2 separate regions of the Homo sapiens genome follow, and region 1 is linked to region 2. The links come from fine-mapping of genetic effects on gene expression. A gene starts in region 2. The other region holds a variant in brackets. All regions are shown on one strand. Distances are between the middles of the regions.

Region 1 (5,371 bases), 280 kb before region 2:
TCACTCACATTTCCTCCAGCAGGCCAAGCATATTTCTGCCTCAGGGCCTCTCCACTTGCCAGTTCCCCTGCTTGAAACACTTTTCTTTTTTTTTCTTTTTTCTTTTCTTTTTTTTTTTTGAGACGGAGTCTCGCTCTGTCATCCAGGCTGGAGTGCAGTGGTGTGATCTCGGCTTGCTGCAACCTCTGCCTCCCACGTTCAAGTGATTCTCCTGCCTCAACCTCCCGAGTAGCTGGGACTACAGGCATGAACCACCATGCCCGGATAATTTTTATATGTTTAGTAGAGATGGGGTTTCTCCATGTTGGTCAGGCTGCTCTCAAACTCCTGACCTCCAGCGATCCACCTGCCTTGGCCTCCCAAAGTGCTGGGATTACAGGCGTGAGCCACCATGCCCGGTGCCCGGCCCTTGAAACACTTCTCCAGATATCTCAGCAACAGGTTTCCAACTTTATTTAGGTCTCTGCTCAGATGTGGCCTCCTCCCAGGGCCTTTCCTGATCACAGCTGAAACAGCAATCCCTGGATGCCTCACCCGCATCACACACTAGGCCCTCCCTCTGCTTTATTTTTCCCCATAGCATCTCCATCATCTCACATTCTGTATGAAATGTTTGTTTATTTAAGAATCCCACAGCACCAGAGACATCTGGATGTGGAAAAGGCATCTCCAGATTCCATGTGTGGAGGGAGATGGGGGAATGGGGACTCTCTGCGGTGCTCTTTCCAGGGTGTGTTCTTTGTTAGGACAATGAAGACACACAGCTAATGTGTCTTATCTAACATTTCCCCAGGGCCAGCACACAGTGGATGTGAATGAACACACGAAGAAAGGAAGGATTGACAAAGTGAAACAGCAAATGAGCAAAGGAAGAGGCGGCAGCCTGGGGGTCCTGGCAGTCCTCCAGCAGAGAGGACCCCAGGCTCCCATTCCTTGGGCTGGTGCAAGGCTCTGGTCTGTGTCCCCTGGGGAGCCTCCCAGCACAGGCAGCCCCTGCGTAGCAACTGGACCTGGACAAGGACCCAGCGCCCTCTGGTGGCCGAGACTCCTGAGGCTCCAGGCCAGGCCTCTAGCGTCCTGGTGGTTTCCAAGGACTTTCTTTCCCACAGTCCCCTTGGAATATCACAGAAATCCCTAGGAAACAAAGCAGCTCAGATTTGTAATGAAGGAAAGGATGCCATGCTGGGTCCCCAGAGTCCTGGGTTCTGGTTCTAGCCATGCCCCTGACTCTCTGGGTGACCTTCAGCGTGTCCTGGGATTTGAGCTGCCAAGGGCTGGGCTTGGGCTTGCCACTGTAGGGAGTGGGGGTGCCTGCAGCAGCACCTCGACTGCCCGCCTCTTGGCCTCAGCTTGCTCTAAGACCTTACCCATCAGGAAGTGCTTGCATGAATAAGTGAGCCAAAATCTTCCTCCCTATGGCTCTAGCATCCCTCCAGGCTTTGCATTCTGTGTCCACACACATCCTGGAAGAACACCAGAGTCTCCATTCCCCCAACCCCCTTTCACCCATGGGATCTGGAGATGTCTTTTCCACATCCAGATGTCTCGTGTGCAGTGGGATTCCTAAATCTGGAGCTCAGGGGGAGGTGTGCACTGAAGACAGACCTTCGGGGTCATTAGCACCTAGAGGGTCTGTGACACCTGGAGAATGACTGGCTTGCTGAGGCCAGTGGTTCCCAGCCTAGGCTGCATACTACAATCATCCGGAAATCCAGTGAGCGTGGATGCCCAGAACCCACCTACCAGACTGATGAAATCAGAGCCCCTGCGTGTGGGCCCAGGCATGGGCATTTGATTTTTAAAATTTTTTATTTTCTTGGTAGATCACTCACAGAACATGCATGGACATTTTTACAGGCTTTCAGGAGATTCTTTGTGTAGCAGGGTTGAGCTACACTACATCTGAGCCTAGGACCCTGGGAAGAACTCAGAGAAGGCAGCAGTAGAGGCTGGGAAGGAGATTGTTATGAGGTAGGAGGAATAGCAAGTAACGGGGGTGTTTCAAGAACCAGAGCCGAGTGCTGCTGAGAAGTCAAAGTCCTTGTTGCTTTTGTTTTGGAGAATAAGGTTGGTGACTCTAATAAAAGCCACATAATGGCATCATGGGGATGAAGGAGAGTTAATTGAGGGGAGAATGGGGGTGAGAAAGTGGAAATGAAAGTAATCAACAACTCTTTTGAACAGTTTTTGCTGTGAAGAGGAACAGAGAAACAGAGGTGGCCGAAGAGGAATGTGAGGTCAAGGGAAGGTTTAAAATGTGAAATTACAGAGCATGTTTGCGTGTGGCTGGAAAAGCTGCTGGTAGGATGAATGGGCGCAGGAGAGAGTGGGGACAGCTCAATTTTCCAAGCTCTGAGGTGAAAGGAGCCGGGATCAGAGCACAGCTGGGGACAGACACTGTTTCTACTGTAGGGGTAGGAAGAAGACAGATGGATGCCAGTACACTTGCAGATACGGTGGGAGAGCCCGACCTGTTTCCCCAATATGCCTGTGAGGAGACATTGGGTGGGGATAGACAGGAGGTTCTGGGGAGGAGAAAAGCTGCCCTACTAGGGAACAGGGTCTCTTGTGGCAGGGAGTGCCTGCCTTGCACTGTTAAGAAGGATGCAGGCAGTCTGCTTAAATGGATTTCTCTGGCTGTGGGCAGCTGTGTGCAGGCACTGAGGAGGTCTGGGCTCGCCCAAGGCCGGGGACTTTGCCAGACCAGTAAGATGAAACGAGAGAGAACAGGGGGAAGGGACTATGGAGAACAAAGAGGGGATGGTGGGCAGAGGCCTCGAAGAGCCAGAAAAGGGTCCCTGCAGGTCGACATGCCTAGGCAGGGGCGGTACTGGCCGCACTAAAGGAAGTGAGCTGGAAGGAGGTGGCGGCCAGAGGATGAGGCTTGGACAGGAGAGAGCAAAAATTGTGTGTCCGTCATGAAAATGAGGTTCAGGATGTGCCAAGGGTGTGTGCAGCTGAGGTGGAGTTGCGGTGAGGGGCTGGGCAGTCAGAGCCCTGGAGGCATGACGCTTGCGTGC[G/A]TGGCTGGCTCCTAGGATGGCGCCAGGAGCAGGAGCAGAGGAGGGAACGCAGCATGGAAGTCTTCAGGAAACTTCTCTCCCCCTGGAATGTCGGCTCCCGGAGAACAGGACCAAGGCTGTCCTGAACACGGCTGTGTCCCCCAGCGCCTGGCACTGAGTAGGCACGCAGCAAACTCTCATCAAGGATTATGCCTGATACGTCATCGGTTCTCTCTCCTTTACAGATGAGGAGACTGACGCCTGGGGTTCCCAGAAGTATCTGCAAATTGTTGGAGTTTCAGCAGGGAACAAGTGTTTTGGACGAGGGTGTCTCTGAAATCCCTTCCACCTGCACCCCGCCCCCACTGCCTCCTCCCAGCTCGGGCCTCCGGGTCTCCAGTTGGGCCCTCATGTTGCTCCTTCCTGAGTCTGACAAGTAAGCCTCACAGCTCCCTCCGCCTGCCTCTTCGTGTCACTCGGCCGTGCAGAGCAACATGGAGTCCTAATGATTTCCATCCCGTCTGTCTGCTGCAGTGGGTTTGAGCCCACGGGTGGCAGGTAAGGCCCAGGTCACCTGTGCCCCTGGAACCGGCACAGGGTGCTTGTGTTGGCCGCAATGAACGTGGGCAGGGGCGTGTGCCGTGAGTGCCCCTGCCGGGAGCTGCTCTGAGCTTTATTATCTGTGAGTCTGCACACTATTCATGAGGAGGGCAGGGCAGGGCTGAGGTCCTCCACAGGCGGCCTGCCTTGTTCCTGCAGGCCAGGGTGGACACAGGCGTGTGTCTGCATGGGCCCAATGTTTGCCCACCAGCCCACCCTCCTGTCCCAGGGGGAGCACCTCTCCCCTCTGGCCACCACTCTGCTGGGCGTTCAGGGCCGGTCACAAGGGGCTGGGCCCTTCCTCCGCTCACGACTCAGCAGGGTCACCAGCTTGGCCTTGAAACCTGCCTGAGGGTCAGGGCGGCCTGTGCCCTCCACCTGATCCAGCTCCAGCAGCCGCCGGTACTGGGCCTCCAGGGTACTGTCGTTGGCCGGGCCGGGCCAGCTCAAGTCCTGGCCGTTGTGGTAGATGGGACTGGTTGTGGGGCTGCGGCTGCCGGGGCCCTCGTGCGGCTCAGGTTCCCCACCGTGCAGCGTGGGGCTGGCCTCCAGCACACACAGGTTCTCATAGAGGTGCTCATTGCCTGGGGGCCCACTGGCACGCTTGCACACTGAAGCGTAGAGCCCGGACGCCAGATCGTTGGGCTCCGGGCCTAGCAGTAGCGGCAGGCTCTGGGGTCCGGGCTCGGCCAGGTGCATTTTCCTGGACGTGGGTGGCTCAGGTCCTGGTGGCATCTCCCGAAGCTCTCCGGGGGTGTCCAGGGAGGGCAGAGAGGTGGCCCGTGGCAGGGGGCAGGGCTGGGGCCTGGTCAGCTCTGGCAGCCGCTCCCGCTGGCGGGCGATGGCCCCGGCCACAGCCCTGCACAGGTCAGGGGCACAGGGGGTGCTGAAGGCAAAGAGGCCCTCACCCGAGTGGCAGCGACGGCCGGCCTCAAAGGAGAACACGCCCTGGGCACAGGGCACACGGGTGGGGATTAGCAGGAGGGTCCAGGGTGTCAGCCCCTCACCCTTTCCCACCCCTGCACCTCACCTTGTCGGAGCCGAACTTGCGCAGGAAGTGGTAGGGCCAGCTGTAGAGGGCCTGGGTGCCCTTGGCCTCCCTCAGCTGGATGGCGTCTGGGCCCAGCACCAGCAGGGCCGGCCCCTTCAGCTGGCAGCGGGTGGCGGCCTCAGTCCTCTGCACCACCACGGGAAACTCGCCCACTGTGGCAGGTGGCCAGGACAGCTCCGTCAGTCCCAAAAAGACCCAGCCCTGGGTGTGGGGGGCTGAGGCTGCCCTTGCACGTCCTCCAACTTACCTTCCTGCCAGGAGGAGTAGATGGAGTTTTCCTCCATGGGGACCAGGCCCCTCTTGGGAGACTGGGCATCTGTGGATCCTGAGGAGGCCTCCCCTGTCCCCTGGGGAATGAGTTCAAGTCAAAGGTGAGAGCACCGCACTCCCATGCCCTGTCCCCTCCCCTCAGTATCCCAGAACTCCACAAGCCAGGGGGCATCCAGGGGCCTGGGCTCCAGTTCCAGCTTTGCCCGGCTCGCTGCATAAGCCTAGGTCCCCTTCCGAGCCTGTTCTCCCACCTGGCTCCCCACTGAGAGTGCTGGGCTGGGCAAGAGGCACTGTGCTTGAGGGTGTCTGAGAGCTGCAGATCACTGGGGACACAAAAGGATGTCCCTTGCAGCCCCTGGGCTTGGCTGGGCCAGCTTCTGTATGTCTGACAGCCTAGAGCAGTACCCCAGGTGTCTTCCTCCATCTCACCACAGCCACCTGCTATGACCCT
Region 2 (5,371 bases):
ACTTAGATTTTCAGCTGCACTGGAATCAGAGCCCCTAACCCCCACATTATTCATGGGTCAAGTGTAATTATGTATTTACTAAATATAAACAATTTATTATAAAAATAAACAACTTATTACAAAAATGAACTAGAAGATCCATATGTATAACAAGTCCAATTTGTTACAATGTGACTATAGAGAAAACATAAATATTATATAGGATTTTCGGGATCATAATTAAGTAAATGATTTTTTTTCAGATAATACTGTTTGAGATTATAAATCAGCTACAACTACCTTCTTAAATAACTCTTAATTCCAAACTAAAGAAGTTAAATATAAGAAACTAATTTACATGTATGTATATATGTATATATACATGCAATTTACACATCTTTTTAAACTTTTCTTTTCCTTCAAAACTACCTTAATCTTACATCTTAATTTTTTTAAACCAAGAGTAGGACCACCATGAGAAATGAGAAATTCACTATCAGAAGTCTTACCTGGATTGTAAGTTTTAAGAATCTTCTTTTTAAGTTCCAAAATTTGGTGTCGAATTCTGTATATAAAAAAGTAATAAATAAAATTGCTATTTTAATACTGAAATAAAAGTTACCATATTAAATTCTTAATGTTTGGTAAATGTGTAATCAAACTGATTCTTTTTTCCTCGCTGGCTAAAACAAAATACATCTTCGCACATCAACGTACTTCTATATCTATTGTCACCTTTGATGGTCACATATTATTGCATCCTATGGATGCAACTGAAATTTACTTATAAGATCCATTCTATGGGTTCTTTTTAAAATAAGTGCTGTGAAAAACAAAGTGCATGTATCTCTATTTCCCAAGGGTATTTTAGTATAATGGAATTGAAGGGTAACGGGCATACGCATTTTTAAAATATAGTACTTACCACCAAATTATCTATTTAAAAAGTAATCAGCAACTTAAACTTCAGGCAGCAGTATAAAAAACATCCTCACACATTGTGGATAGAAAACAGTTTCATTCCTCTTTTAATTTAAATTCTTATACCAGAAAAGCAAAGGCTTTTTTTCCTATTTACATAAGAAACTTGTAGATCTGCAAAAAAGTACTTTGCCCCCTTTTACAGTTTTTGATTATTTGATTTGAAAGAATTCCCTGTAAAATGAAGATGCACTTTTCAGGCCGGGCGCGGTGGCTCACACCTGTAATCCCAGCACTTCTGGATGGCGGCTCACTGCAAGCTCCCCCTCCCGGGTTCACAGCATTCTCCTGCCTCAGCCTCCGGAGTAGCTGGGACTATGGGCGCCCACCACCACGCCCGGCTATTTTTTTTTTTTTTTTTTTTTTTTGTATTTTTAGTACAGACAGGGTTTCACCGTGTTTGCCAGGATGGTCTCAATCTCAATCTCCTGACCTCGTGATCCGCCCACCTCGGCCTCCCAAAGTGCTGGGATTACAGGCCTGAGCCACCGCGCCCAGCCCTAAAATTTTTACAAATGTCATTACAATAGTAAAAGACAGTAGGTGTCATGCAAAAATGTTAAAACCTTGATTTTTTCATTCGGCTTATGTAAAATTGATAATCACAGAAAGAGCTCACATTTTGAGAAAAATGTGTCTTCCCATTCAGGAACACAGAACCCACCTCCCACTTCCAAGTTTCCTTCTAAGAACCTTCAGTAAAGAACCGATCTACACAGGTGGATACGGATGTAAAACGGACAGTTTTAGGTGAGAGCTTTTCGCTACTGAAAATGACTCACGGTTTTTTGTTTGTTTGTTTGTTTTTCTTTTTTGGAGACGGAGTCTCGCTCTGTCGCCCAGGCTGGAGTGCAGTGGCGCCATCTCGGCTCACTGCAAGCTGCGCCTCCCGGGTTCACGCCATTCTCCTGCCTCAGCCTCCCGAGTAGCTGGGACTACAGGCGCCCGCCACCACGCCCGGCTAATTTTTTTTTTTTTTTTTGTATTTTTAGTAGAGACGGGGTTTCACCGTGTTAGCCAGGATGGTCTCGATCTCTTGACCTGGTGATCCGCCCGCCTCGGCCTCCCAAAGTGCTGGGATTACAGGCCTGAGCCACCGCGCCCGGCCGACTCACGGTATTTTTTGATAGAGGAATGAGTTCTCTCATTAGGCACCTCCTATAATGTATATAACACCATGTTTTAAACGTGTAGGTTAAAAATAACACTGTGTATGCTTAGCTTGGTGAGTTAAATCACTCACATTCTCCACCAAGCGCTCCAGCTGGGGAATTATGGGGGATGCAGAGCAGCTGAGGCTCCGTTTGGCACCACCCCTCTGAGGGTGCCCTCTGAGGCCCCATCCCAGGGGCTGCGGGGAAGCCGGGCCTGGGGACCCCCTCCCACCCTGGGCTGAGCCCCCACCCCACTGCCTGTGCTGCCTGTCCCCGGCTTCCAGGTCTCTGCTCCTGCGCGCCAGGCAGCGCTCCACTTCCGCGGCTTCGCCCTTGACAGCGCCCTGTGGATCTTCCGATTCGGTACCCCGAACCCCTGTAGACGTGGCCTAGGGAGCCCCGGACCGCCGGCCCCTGCGGCTCCCAAAGCCGAAGAACTTCTTCAAGGTGGTGAGTTCTTCTCAGACCCCCAACCACTGGCTCCTGAGCCGCGGCAGCTCCGTGTCACCTTTTCACTCCCCCTCGCCCCACACCCAGCCCCAAATCCCCAATCCAACTCCAAATCCCCTATCCAACCCCCAATCCGCGATCCAAACCCCAATCCGTGATCCAACCCCCAATCCGTGATCCAACTCAAAATCCCCGATCCAAATCCCAATCCGCGATACCAAGTCTGCGATCTAGCCCAGAATCCGCGATCCCGCCTGGTCCACCCTTCAGCAGCGACACTGGCGGCCTCCGACCTCTCAGACCTAGTGAGCCTCGCAAAGCCGCCCGGCTCCCGGAAGCCGCAGGTGCAGGCGCCGCTGGGCTCGCGGGTTCTCCTGGGCTGGCCAGGGCTGCCCCAGGACCACGGACGGAAAATCGCAGGCGCGCGGCCCACCCCGCCTTAAGGGGAGGGCCCGCCTGGCCGTGTAGCCCGCCCCGCTCCTCCTTCCGAAGAGAGATCTGGTGCTGGCATGGGCACCCCGCGGCCACCGGAGTGGCTTCCCGGATGAGCCTGGCTTCGGCGCTGACGCTCTGGCCCTGGGGGCTGCCTGGCTGGTGTCAGGTAGCGGAAGACGCCTGGAGAGTCACTCGCTCCTTCCCCCACCCGCCCCCACCGCTGCTCGTGCCAGGACGCGCAGTTTGCAGTTGCAGCTCTGGCACTGGCGCGGGATGGCGGAGCTTCCCTTGGATGGCGTCAGGGTCACTGAGTGCACAGCCTACCTGGTCTGAGGGTCTGCTCCTCCTGGACACCTCTCCGGATCCTGATCCCTGGCGCTGGGCAATCCACAGGATGAGACTCATCGGCTGCTGGCGAAGCCGACCGCCTGACTTTGCTGCCTGGGCGGCTGGCCCCGGGATCCGCGCTGCTGGGGACGCGGGCCTGGTCTGCGGTGTCCAGCCACTTGCTGCGGGCGCGCCACGTCTAGGCTGGTGGCTGCAGCCGCAGCTCCGCGCCTGCGGGGGCTAGTGGGCCTGGTACCTGATGTCCTCAGGGTCAAGTGCATCGCTCCCCCACCTGAGGGTCTGCTCTGCCTTGACCTCCTCCAAGAGCGCAGGGGCCACCGGGGAGGCAATTTAGGAATGCCTAAATGGAAGGAACTATCCTTTCTCTGTCTTTAAGAAATAAGTGGCTTTTGTTGTTGTTTTTGTGATACCCAGCTACAGCAGAAAGCAAAGGGGATGCAGAGGTGAAGGTCCACAGCCAGTTCCTCTACTGATTCCCTCCAGGCATAAATGTTCAATCTAACGGCTTTGGTTGGCACTTTCACCTCAGCACTTACCTATGCCTACAGGTTTGTTCAATGGCAACTCTTGGATTTTGAATTAATACCCAATTATTTCATATTTTAATACCCAAACTATTTTAATAGTTTACCATATCTGCAATCCTGAATTAATTTTTTCTTTGTTTATAAAACAATCACTATAGTAAGATAAAAATCACAAAACACTTCCACATTTCATTGGGCTAAAAAAGCATTAAAACATTATACGTAAAAGATAAAAAATATATTGTTTCATCATAAAAATTATGGCTTTGCAAATTTTTTTTACCTTTAGCTACATTCTTACGATTCTTTAACTTTTCACTGTTATTTTATACATTTTTAAAACAATGCATACCAGTGTTTAAAAAACAAATGCAGCATTTCATCTAGGACTGAACATATAACGCTGGTCAGCTCTTTCAGCATGGTGCAGGTGTGGGCCTCAGGCTGCTTTCTGTTTACATGTATCAAATGACATGACCATCTTAACTGCACAGATACCATCTTCTCGGCTTCTTTCTTCTCCCCCAAAACTATTTAATGTTGCTTTAATGGCAACATCAATTTAACTAGTTTTGTAATTTCTGTATTTAATTGTCACATAACATTATATCCGTTCTTTTTTTTTTTAAAAAAAAAGGAAAGCATACAATCTTAGTTGCTAGGCCAGTTCTTCTGAATCAATTTGAAATCACCTTTTTTCTCTTTCATAATAACTACTTATTTTAATCAACAAGTCAACTATTATTAGATATTAACTTATTTTTTCTAGTTAAAATTTTGCTATCTTTCAAATAATTCCAACTCTTACACACACATTTAATGTACATAACTGTAACATATACATACATAAGCACAGGTTAAGCCAGATCTAACATGAATTTAGATATGCCAAGAAAGCCACATGACCATTATTTACATAAATATGACCAGTGTTCACATTTATCAAGGCCAATGAATATTAAGGTGATTGCTTCAATAAGAAATTAGGTGAAGAATTATTTGTTGAATATTGTCAAACACTTTTTTTAACCTGTTAAAGTTATTTAAGCCTGACCCAAATAATTTTTAAACTTTTTATTCTATCATGCCTATAGACAGCTTCATATATTAACCATTTCTGCTTTCGTGGTCCTTTGAGAATGGTATCTTAGTATGTAAGTGCAATAAATAAACAACTTTTAAAGGAATAAAGAAAATTGATATAAATTAGTCTGGAAAATCTAGTCTGTAGCTGGGCAGCCAGGTGCCCCCAGCTAAACCTCAAGGGATGGTTCTGTTAAAGTGAAGAAAAGAAGAATAGTGTGTAACAGAAGCCTGCTCTGTGGCTCCAGGTTACAGCTGTGGCCACCCAATCTGCCTTGTGCCTCCTTCTTCTCACAAGTACACACTCATCCCAGCCCCAAGCAAGAAAGACCAAAGTCCCTTGCCAGGCGCGGTGGCTCACGCCTGTAATCCCAGCACTTTGGGAGGCCGAGGCGGGTGGATCACGAGGTCAGG

The links. PIP is the estimated chance that this variant, and not a neighbour inherited with it, causes the effect. A credible set is the group of variants that fine-mapping cannot tell apart.
Region 1: its variant is the best candidate, but not a certain one, in a credible set for the expression of FAM153A in whole blood (TOPMed, PIP 0.65).

Annotation. Positions count from the first base shown.
Region 1 is chr5:177,500,114-177,505,484 of GRCh38, forward strand. It overlaps DOK3 (docking protein 3), which reads right to left. Exons shown (of 6, transcript NM_001308236.3): 4 at 4,898-4,997; 5 at 4,630-4,802; 6 at 1,791-4,547. The coding sequence ends at 3,870. Among named protein-coding and RNA genes, the nearest start is that of PDLIM7, 5.2 kb to the left of the region's middle. RefSeq lists enhancers at 722-961, 1,742-1,791, 1,802-1,871, 1,892-1,941, 2,441-3,394 and 1 more. The variant G/A (reference allele first, on the strand shown) is at 3,021.
Region 2 is chr5:177,779,961-177,785,331 of GRCh38, forward strand. FAM153A (family with sequence similarity 153 member A) reads right to left here and starts at 2,939. Exons shown (of 23, transcript NM_001413826.1): 1 at 2,783-2,939; 2 at 489-544.